2 separate regions of the Homo sapiens genome follow, and region 2 is linked to region 1. The links come from fine-mapping of genetic effects on gene expression. A gene starts in region 1. The other region holds a variant in brackets. All regions are shown on one strand. Distances are from middle to middle.

What was found. PIP is the estimated chance that this variant, and not a neighbour inherited with it, causes the effect.
Region 2: its variant is the best candidate, but not a certain one, in a credible set for the expression of FIGNL2-DT in whole blood (INTERVAL, PIP 0.55).

Annotation. Positions count from the first base shown.
Region 1 is chr12:51,845,523-51,850,888 of GRCh38, forward strand. FIGNL2-DT (FIGNL2 divergent transcript) reads left to right here and starts at 2,701. Exons shown (of 3, transcript NR_135803.1): 1 at 2,701-3,041; 2 at 4,739-4,788. FIGNL2 (fidgetin like 2) reads right to left here and starts at 3,196. Exons shown (of 2, transcript NM_001384995.1): 1 at 3,018-3,196. RefSeq lists enhancers at 1-102, 103-811, 1,522-2,230, 2,429-3,420.
Region 2 is chr12:51,739,199-51,744,564 of GRCh38, forward strand. All of the region lies in intron 12 of SCN8A (sodium voltage-gated channel alpha subunit 8), which reads left to right. Among named protein-coding and RNA genes, the nearest start is that of TMDD1, 73 kb to the right of the region's middle. The variant C/T (reference allele first, on the strand shown) is at 2,581.

The DNA.
Region 1 (5,366 bases):
GGGGCCTGGAGTCCACATCTCCCTGCTGCAGCCCTGGAGCTTTGCAGAGCCATGCTCCTTCCAGGAACCTGGTTTTCATTAAATCGGGTAAAGGAGTCGATAACCGCCAAGTCCAGGAGAGGCAAAGTTCTGCTAGAAGGCACAGGGAAGGTGAGGGAGACCAGCCTGTCTCTTGCCCTCCCTGGCTGACCGACGGCAGGGGGAGGGGAAGGCAGGGCTCCTAAGGGTCCAGCAATGGCAGCAGTCGGAGCTTGGGGGGAGAGTCGGGGGAGTCCTGGCCCAGATAATAAGCAATTGTTAATGTGATCCATATGGATCCTGACTGGCCTCTCTGTTTAACAGAATGATAATGGCAGGGAAAGAATGCTGGTCTGTGGGGAAGGGAAGGGGCAAAGTCCTCCCCGGACTTGGGGGGGTGGGGTAGGGTCATGGGGAGGAGAAGGAGGCAAATAAGGGAAAGGGAGAGGAGGAGCCCCACCCAGGGGTCTCCACCACCCAAGAGCACAGAGCTGTTTACCTGAAGGTGGCCAGATTCCATGCTATGCAGACTGCCTGGCTAAAGGCCCTTACAAAACCCCTTTTATTCAGCCAACCAATATTTATGGAGCACCCACAAGGTGTCAAGCCCTGTGGCAAGCCCACTGGGGGCAGGGCCAGGGAGTACATGCTCCATTTCAGTCAAAGCCCTGAGTGGACCCCGCCACAAAGGCGGAAGGGAGCACAGGTGCAGGCCACGGAGGGAGGAGCAAGTGACAGAAGCTCGGGGCTGGGGAGGTGATGCGGAGGAGGTGCGCATCCGAGTTGGGCCCTGAAGAATAAGGAGGTTGTGGAAAGACAGGGACAATGAGGAAGGCATTTGGCTGGAGGAACAGCGGGAGCAAAGGCAGAGAGGCGTGAAATTGCGTGGAGAGAGCCCTAGATCTCAGCAATAAAGCTGCGGCCCAGGCAGGGCAGGGAGGGGAGTCCTGATCCATAAAAAGCTGTGGCCATGGGTGAGCAGAAGAAAGGCAGGAAAGGGCTCTGCGACGCCACACTCAGTCTGGGTGGCTCTCCCCAGCCTTCGCCCAGGCTGGTACTGGAATTGACAGTTACGGGATCCTCAGCCCAGCCCTCAGCCATACCACGGCCAGAGAATCGGGCAGGGCCTCCGAAGCCAAACTCATTTCTGTGTCTCTCAGCCCCTTCTGTTTCTTCTTCTGGGGCGGGGGTGGGGGCAACAGGAATCCCCCCGAGGAATGCGGGTCCTCTAGGCCTCCCCAGGAGCAACTCCTCTGCCCCACACAGCCTAATTCCCTTTGGCCCAAAAGGGCTTCGCCCAGAAGATATTACAGCGAGGACACGAGGGTCGCTCCCGTCTGCCTTGGATGCCAATGGAATCAAGTGGAAAGAAATGAAATGGTGTTAAACATGGGAAAGGGGATTTACGAGGCCTGTCACCCGTCCAGCCCAGCCACCCCAGCAAGCCCCGCCCCTTTCCTCGCCCACCCCAGGAAGTCCCGCCCCGCCCCCTGCCCGCAGCTCGCGCGGCCGCCCGGTACCCGCGTCCCACAGCTGGGTGGCGGCGGCACCACAGCACCGGGCAGCCCGGCGCGCCCGTCCTTGGGGGCTCAGGCACAGCGGGGAATGGCGTCGGTTCCGGACTGAGAGGCTCGGGGAGGCTTTAGGAGGATGCTATGGGATTTCGGGGTAGGCTCCGGGAGGGTCTGGGACTCCCTCTGCAGGGTCAGAGGGTTTCGCACCGTGGCATCTGCGGGCCCAGCCCACTCCAGAGACTGGGCGGCTCCACAGGGGAGGCCCCACGGCCCAGGAACCGGGAAGCCCACCTGCGCCGTAAGCCCAGAGTTGGGCTGGAACCGGGTCCCCACTCCTCGCTGCCGGGCGGAAAGCAGGAGACCGCTCCGCCGCCACAGCCCGTGCGGACAACACAAACATTCTTCAGTCCTCTATTCTCCTCCAAATTAGGTATCCATGGAGACAGGGCCGGCAGCCTGACAGCCCTACGGCCTAATCCTGATTTAGTGACCGTCCCTTTAACAGCCCACCCACCCGTCCACCCACCCCTGCGCTCCGGGCCGCCGCTGGGCGCAGGGTCCAGGCCGCGCGCTCTCTGCCCCGCGCAGACCCCTTCCCAGGCCTCCTCCTCTGGCGGGGGCAGGGGGACCAGCGGGGCTGGGGAAGGGCACCAGCATTTGCTGATCACCTACAGGGTGCTCAGCAATCTGCGAAGGACCCTCTGCAGCGGCGGGGGGGTTGCTAGCATGCGAATCTCTGTGTAGAACAGGAGAGGGCTCTTGCGGTGGGGAAGTTTGAGGGGCCCTCTCTGGAGAGCTGGGCGCTCCGGGGGTCCCCCTTGTTGCCTGTAGCCCCAGGGTGAAGGTGAGTACAGCCTCCTACAACCCCCTGACTCTGAGACGCGGGCTCTGTTCTCCCGGGCCAGAGGAGAAGACATGAAGAGGGTGGGTGTTAGGGGCGCGGGGACCCTAAGTAGCCTCGGCCTCCTGTCACTGCCCCGTCACCATGCTGGGGAATCTCCGGGCCAGTAACCCAGCCCCCACCCCTCCCACACACACACACAGGGGCCGCTGGACAAAGACCTGACGGAGTGGGAGGGGCCTGCGGGCCGGCCCTCGGGCTCCGGACGCTGGATCCTTCTGGGACCCGAACCCGCAAACCTTGGCTCCCCACCCCCAGGCCAGCAGACGCCCCCGAGCCGGCTGCTCGCTTTCGCTGCAGCCCCCGCACCAGAGGGGGCTGCGAGACGGGTGCCCGTCGGCGGCCGGGCGGCTATCCCCTGCTCTGCCCGCCCCCTCCCCCCGAGAAGTGACCCTCGGCTCCCACGTACCCGCTAGGGTCTCTCGCCGGCCCTGCCCTCCGACCCCCGCCGAGCTGAACCCCGCGACTAGCAGCCCCCGCCCTCTCGGCCCTCTCCGGCCCCGGGCCGGCGGACAAAGCTCCGGACACCCTGACCGAACGGTCACCTCCCCCCGCCCCATCCCGGCCCGCCCGCGGCCCCGTACCTCGGCATCACGGCCGGGTCCTAGGTGAGTGTGCGCGGCCTGGGGGCGCGTCCGGCCCGGGGACCGGGGCGGCGGCGCGGGCCGGGGGCGACAGGCCTGGGCTGGGGGGCAGTGGCGCTCACCATCCTGGAGCCGCTGCTGCTGCGGCTGCTGCGGCCGCCGCGGGCGGGAGCGGGACTGGGCAGTGGGGGTGGCCGGACAAGGGGCGGCCCCGGCTCCCCCCGCAGGAAAGACCCCCACCCCCACCCCCGCCTCCCCTCGCCCGCCCCCAGGGCCCTCCCTCGCAGGCCCTCCCTCCCCTCCCCTTTCCCTGCTCCTCCCTCTCCTAGTGCCCCTCTCTTCCCCCAGCTCCCGCCCCTTCTCTGGCCCCTCCACCCCCGGCTTCTTCCCCGCCCTCCCCCACCTCGCCCCCGCCCCGCCCCCACCTCCCCTGGGCTCGCCCAGCCCCTCCTTGCCACCCTCCCGGCTGGCCCCGCCCCCTCCCGCCCCTGGCTCTAAAATAAATTAGCCACAGAGGGGAAAAAAGAGCAAGTGACCCTCGGTGTGGAGAGTGTCCTTCGCCACTCTCAGACCCGTCCGCCCCGCCTCTCCCGGCCGTCGGAGCGGGAAGCTGGGGTTGGGGTGGGGGTCGGGCCGGCGGGTAGGGGTGGGGGACGGCATGGGGACGGGGCCGAGGCCGGGACTGAGCAGCCCAGCCCGTCGAGCGTGTCCGCTGGATGTGGGCGGCTTCCTGGGTCGAAGGGCAAAGGGGAAGGCAGCCGGCCTGGGCCCGCCCCGTCCGCGGGCCGCCCCAGACCCCCTTTCCCAGGACTGCCTTGGCCCCCTGGCCCCAGTCTGGAGGACTCTTGCTCACTTCCTCCGCCCCCAGGTGAGCTGAGAACCCACTGCGCGCGGGACTCTGCTGCGCCTGCCCTCCCGGGCTGCAGAGGGCAGGACGCACCGCCAGGCAAGGCCGCGGCTCTGCGCTGATGCCACTCCGGGAGCGGGTGGCTGCGGGGGAGGAGGGCGAGCACTGGACGGGGGCAGCGGAGTGTAGGGTGTGAGATCTAAACAGAGGGCTCCACTGGAGGGCTTGCCCAGAAGGCGGCAGTCACACTGGGCCAAGCAGGATGACTGGCAGGAAGAAAAGATGAGGGATGAATCCCAGACCTCTAGTCCACTGAGAGTGTCCAAAGACATCCGTTCAATAGATACATACTGAGTGTTAACTTTGTGCCAAACATTGGACTGTGCACCAGGGATACCCAAGAGAGTCCAAGAGGCACAGCCCTGTCTTCCTGGAGCTCCCAGTCGAAGGGTAGACAGAATTCTGCCCGACACACACACACTCAAGGCTTCATCAGGGATAAAGGCCAGGAACCGGCTTTGCCCCAGGAGAAGGTAGGAGGAGGGCTGTGCTGATGATGGAGGGTCCAGAGAACCTTCCTGCTGTTGAGCCTCCAGATGTCCCAAGGCAATCCTGTTTCCACCCAAGGGCAGTGCTTAAGGGTCCTCTCTCCTGAGAGCTTGTTTCCCTTTTGAGTGGCTGCCTAGCCTGAGTGTCAGTAGGGCAAGATTGGCCCTCACCCACTAGCCTGTAGAACTCCAAACACTACCCCCTCCCTTCTTCTAATGCAGATTCCCCTGCAGGCTCTGGGGTCTGACAGGTCTGGGGCACTCCTTTAGGTGCCACTCAGGGAAACAGAAGGGGAGGGCCTCAGTAGCTCCCACTTCTTTTCCAGCCCACATTTGGAAGCAACCGGCACCCACGCAGGTTCTGGAACTTGCCAAGGTCAGTGTCTTTTCCACCTCCAGAATTATCTCTTCCTTGCCACTCCCCACCCCCAGGGCTCTGCCCTGGCACAGGAGGAGGGACGTGTCAAGGCTCAGAGTGCTAGAGTAGCCCCTGGCTTCAGAATCAGGCAGGATGAAGGGAGCCACAACCACCATGCTAGGAGACTGGAACCCTTGCTGGAGGAACAATCCCAGGATACCAGCTGGAAGGAACTCCTTGGCTATTTCCTTATTGTTGGAGCACTGGAGGCCCAGAGAGGAGAAGTGACACACTTGGGGTCACACAGCAAAGCTGGATCTAGAATCCACTGCACTTTTTCCACCCCTACCTGTCAGGTTCCCTGACAGCCAGAGACAGGAACTAAGGGAAAGACTAATATCCTTATGAGCTGGGTGCCTCAGCCAGCAGGATTAGTGCCAGGAAGCCAAGTCTGGCATTGCCAATGGGGATCCTGCTCCACCATGCTCCAGGGAAGGGGGGATGACAGGAGTGGGGTTGGACTGAGGCGCTCAGTGTGAAGGAAGGAATTGATCATGCGCTCCCCTGGAGCGGGGATCCGGTTCTCCTTCATCCTC
Region 2 (5,366 bases), 110 kb before region 1:
GAAAAGGCTCAAATGTAGCTGTAATATTTCCCTGTTGATCTGGGGGGTTTGTTCTAACAGGGAACCGCCAAACCTCTAAATCACCCTCTCGTATAGCTTGCTGAATTCCTGCCTGAATAGAACTAAGAGCCGTCACTCGAGGTGCCGCTCGAAGAGTCACTGGGGCAACTACTTTTTGCCCAATGTCCTCCGGAAAAGAAAGATCCGGGGGGTCATTTTCTTCAAAATAATAAGGAGGGGGTGCAGAAGGGTAGGGATGAACCTCTCCTTCCTTTGCCACTTTAGCTTTAGCTGGCAAATAAACCTGCTCTGTAACCTCTTCTGTTACTTCACTATTCTCTTGTTCCTCCTCATTATCAGTGTGAAAAAGTTCTAAGGTGAAACGAACCAGACCCCATCCCTGTCCCATTGTTACCCTGAGGCATCCGAGCTCCCCTTCTTACTCACCATGGGGACTGCTTTAAGAGTACTCGGGTGTCCTCCAGCTAGTTTTCTGTTCCAAGCATCGCTTCAGCAACCCTTTGACCTGGATTTGAGCCCCCACGAATGGACGCCACTTGCGCGAGACCAGCTCGGTCAGGGAGACCCTAACCCAGTGGCGCTAGAGGAATTAAAGACACACACACACAGAAATATAGAAGTGTGAAGTGGGAAATCAGGGGTCTCACAGCCTTCGGAGCTGGGAGCCCCAAACAGAGATTTACCCGCGTATTTATTAACAGCAAACCAGTCATTAGCATTGTTTCTATAGATATTAAATTAACTAAAAGTATCCCTTTTGGGAAACTAAGGGAAGGGCCGAATTAAAGGAGTAGGTTGGGCTGGTTAACTGCAGCAGGAGCATGTTCTTAAGGCACAGATCGCTCATGCTATTGTTTGTGGCTTAAGAATGCCTTTAAGTGGTTTTCCACCCTGGGCGGGCCAGGTGTTCCTTGCCCTCATTCCCGTAAACCCACAACCTTCCAGCTTGGGCGTTAGGGCCATTATGAACATGTTACAGTGCTGCAGAGATTTTGTTTATGGCCAGTTTTGGGGCCAGTTTATGGCCAGATTTTGGGGGGCTTGCTCCCAACAAGGTGCTGATAGCTTTAAACTTCCCTCTTACTAGTGCTTGCACTGTATCCCATAGGTTTTGTTATGTTGTGTTTCTGCTATTTGTTTCAAGAAACTTTTCAGTTTCCTTCTTAATTTCTTCATTGACTTTGACCCACTGGTCATTCAGGAGCGTATTTAATCTCCATGTGTTTGTATCATTTCCAAAATTCCTCTTATTGATTTCTGGTTTTATTCAAAGATGCTTGATATTGTGGTAAAAAATGCTGGATATTTCAAATTTTTTGAGTATTTTAAGACTTATTTGTGACCTAACATATGGTCTGTCCTTGAGAATAATCCATGTGCTAAGGGCAATAATGTGTATTCTGTAGCCTTTGGATGAAATGTTCTGTAAATATCTCTTAGGTCCATTTGTTCTATTAGGTCATCCTTAGTGTAGGTTAAGTCCAGTGTTTCTTTGTTGATTTTCTGTCTGGGAGATCTGTCCAGTGCTGAAAGTGGGGTGTTGAAGTCTCTAACTGTTATTGTATTGAGGTCTCTTTCTCTTTGAGACAAGGTCTTGCTCTGTTATCCAGGTTGGAGTGGAGTGGTGCGATCTCAGCCCGCTGCAGCCTCAACCTTACAGGCTCAAGTGATCCTCCTGCCTCAGCCCTCTGATTAGCTGGGACTACAGGCATGCACCACCATGCCTGGCTAATTTTTGTATTTTTTTGTAGAGACAGAGTTTTGCCATGTTTCCCAGGCTGGTCTCAAACTCCTGGGCTCCAGAAACCCACCCACCTGGACCTCCCAAAGTGCTGGGATTATGGGCATGAGCTATTGTGCCTAGCCTGAGGTCTATCTCTTTAGCTATAATAATATTTGCTTTACATATTTGGGTGTTCCAGTGTTGGGTACATGTATATTTATAATTGCTATATCCTTTTGCTAGACTGACCCCTTTATCATTATGTACTAGCGATCTCTGTCTCTTCTTATAATTTTTGTCTTAAAATCTATTTTTTCTAATGTAAGTATAGCTACTACTTCTGCTCTTTTTTGGTTTCCATTGGCATGGAATATCTTTTTCCATCCATTTATTCTCAGTCTGTGTATCTTTATAGGTGAAGTGTGTTTCTTGTAGGCAGCAGATCATTGGGTCTTATTTTTTCATGCATTTAGCCACTCTATGTCTTTTTATTGGAGAGTTTAGTTTATTTACATTCAGTGTTATTACTGATAAGTTGGGACTTACTCCTGCCATTTTGTCATTTGTTTTCTGGTTGTTTTGCGGTCTTCTTTTACTTCTTCCCTTCCTTCCTTGTCTTCCCCTTAGTGAAGGTTATTTTCTCTGGTGGTATGACTTAATTTCTTGCTTTTTATTTTTTGTGTATCCGTTGTGTGTTTTTCAATTCGAGGCTACCATGAGGCTTGCAAATATTATTAATGTCTCATAATCCATTATTTTATTTTATTTTTATTTATTTATTTTTTGAGACAGAGTTTCACTCTTGTTGCCCAGGCTGGAACACAATGGTGTGATCT[C/T]GGCTCACTGCAACCTCCACCTCCTAAGTGATTCTCCAGCCTCAGCCCCCCAAGTAGCTGGGATTACAAGCATGTGCCACCACGCCCGGCTAATTTTGTATTTTTAGTAGAGACGGGCTTTCTCCATGTTGGTCAGACTGGTCTCAAACTTCTGACCTCAGGTGATCCGCCCACCTCGACCTCCTAGAGTGCTGGGATTACAGGCGTGAGCCACTGCACCTGGCATAACCCATTATTTTAAACTGATGACAACTTAACACTGATTGCATAAACAAACATGCAAAAAGAAAACTAATAAAAACTGTACACTTTAACTTCATCCCTCTGCTTTTTAACTTTTTGTTGTTTCTCTTTATGTCTTATTGTACTATGTCTTGAAAAGTTGTTGTAGTTATTATTTATATTGGCTTATCATAACACTGTAATTATGGTATGTGGGAGTTTACATGCCACAATTACAGTGTTACAATATTCTGTGTTTTTCTGTATGCCTACTATTACCAGTGAGTTTTGTATCTTCAGATGATTTCTTCTTGCCGTTAACATCCTCTCTTCTTTCAGATGGAAGAACTCCTTTTAGCAGTTCCTGTAGGACAGGTCTGGTGTTGATGAAATCTCTCAGCTTTTGCTTGTCTGGGAAGGTCTTTATTTCTCCTTCATGCTTGAAGGATATTTTTGCCGGATATAGTGTTCTAGGGTAAAAGTTTCTTTCCCTCAGCACTTTAAATATATCATTACCACTTTCTCCTAGCCTGTAAGGTTTTTCACTGAAAGGCCAGCTGCTAGATTTATTGGAGCTCCATTGTATGTTTTTTTTTTTCTTTTCTCTTGCTGCTTTTAGGATCCTTTCTTTATCCTTGACCTTTGGGAGTTTTGTTATTAGATGCCTTGAGGTAGTCTTCTTTTGGTTAAATCTGCTTGGTGTTCTATAATCTTCTTGTACTTGAATGTTGATATCTTTCTCTAGGTTTGGCAAGTTTTCTGTTATTATTCCTTTGAATAAACTTTCTATCCGTATCTCTTTCTCTACGTCCTTTTTAAGGCCAATAACTCTAAGATTTTCCCTTTTGAGGCTATTTGCTAGATCTTGCAGGTGTGCTTCGTTTTGTTGTTGTTGTTGTTCTTTTTTCTTTTGTCTCCTCTGAGTATTTTCAAATAGCCTGTCTTCAAGCTCATTAATTCTTTCTTCTGTCTGATCAATTCTCTTATTAAGAGACTCTAATGCATTGTTTAGTATTCAGTTGCATTTTCCAACTGTAGAGTTTCTGCTTGATTGTTTATAATTATTTCAGTCTCTTTGTTAAATTTATCTGATAGAATGCTGAATTCCTTCTCTGTGTTATCTTGAATTTCCTTGAGTTTCATCAATATAGTTCTTTTGAATTCCCTGTCTGAAAGGTCACATATCTCTGTTTCTCCAGGATTGGTCCCTGGTACCTTATTTAGTTCTTTTGGTGAGGCCATGTTTTCCTGCATGATCTTGATGCTTGTAGATGTTTGTTGGTGTTTGGGCATTGACAAGCTAGGTATTTTTTATAGTCTTCGCAATCTGGGCTTGTTTGTGCCTGTCCTTCTTCAGAAGGCTTTCTAGGTATTCGAAGGAATTTGAGCCCCGAGTCCAATAATGCTGTGGTTTTTGCAGATTCATAGAAATACCACCTTGGTGGTCTTGGATAATAAAGATCTGGAAGAATTCTCTGGATTACGAGACAAAGATTTGTTCTTTTTCCTCACTTTCTCCCAAACAAATGGAGTCTCTTTTTCTGTGCTGAGCCACCTTGAACTGGAGTGTGTTGATGTAAGCACCCCTCTGGCCATTACTGCTGAGACTGCTGGGTCAGACTTGAAGCCAGCACAGCACAGGGTCTCGCCCAAGGCCCGCTGTAACCACTACATGGCTGCCACCTGTGTTCACTCAGGGCCCTAGGGCTCTATAGTCAGCAGGTGGTGAAGCCAGCCAGGTTTGTATCCTCCCCTTCAGGGCAGCAAGTTCCCCCAGGTCCCAGGTGGGTACAGACATGTTGTCCGGAAGCCAGGGATTGGAGCAAAAAGCCTTAGAGATTTCTTAGCACTTTGGGAGTCCAAGGTGGGTGGATCACCTGAGGCCAGGAGTTTGATACCAGCCTGGCCAACATGGTGAAACCCATCAAGAGGACAGGGACCATGTTGTATGTGTTGTTCGCCACTGTATCCACACCACTTAGCAAACAATAAGTATTTGTTTAAATAAAATTAAATTTTAGCTGGGCATGGTGGCTCACATCTGTAATCCCAGCGTTTTGGAAGGCTGAGGTGGGAGGATCACTTGAGGCCAGGAGTTCCAGACCAGCCTGGATAACATGGCGAAACCTTGTCTTTACTAAAAAATACAAAAATTAGCCGGGTGTGCTTGTGTATGCCTGTAATCCCAGCTATTCAGGAGGCTGAGGTGGGAAAATTGCTTGAACCTCAGAGGCAGAGGTTGCGGTAAGCCGAGATCATGCCACTGCATTCCAGCCCGAGCGACAGAGCAGACTCTCAAAAAGCAAAAACAAAAAACCTTAGAGATTTGCCTGATGTTCTATTCTGCAGCTATGCTGGCACTCAAACCACAATACAAAGTCCTTCCTGCTCTTCTCTCCTTTTTCCACAGGCAGGAAGCCTCTTCCTGTGGCCACCACCACAAGTCATTCTTACATACACAGATGTTAGTGTAGTAATGCAGCAAGGAATTCCCAGGGAAATCGGTTTTTTTTTTCCTGTATTTCTTCTGTAGCTTTGCCAAACAAACAAAACAAACAAGACCC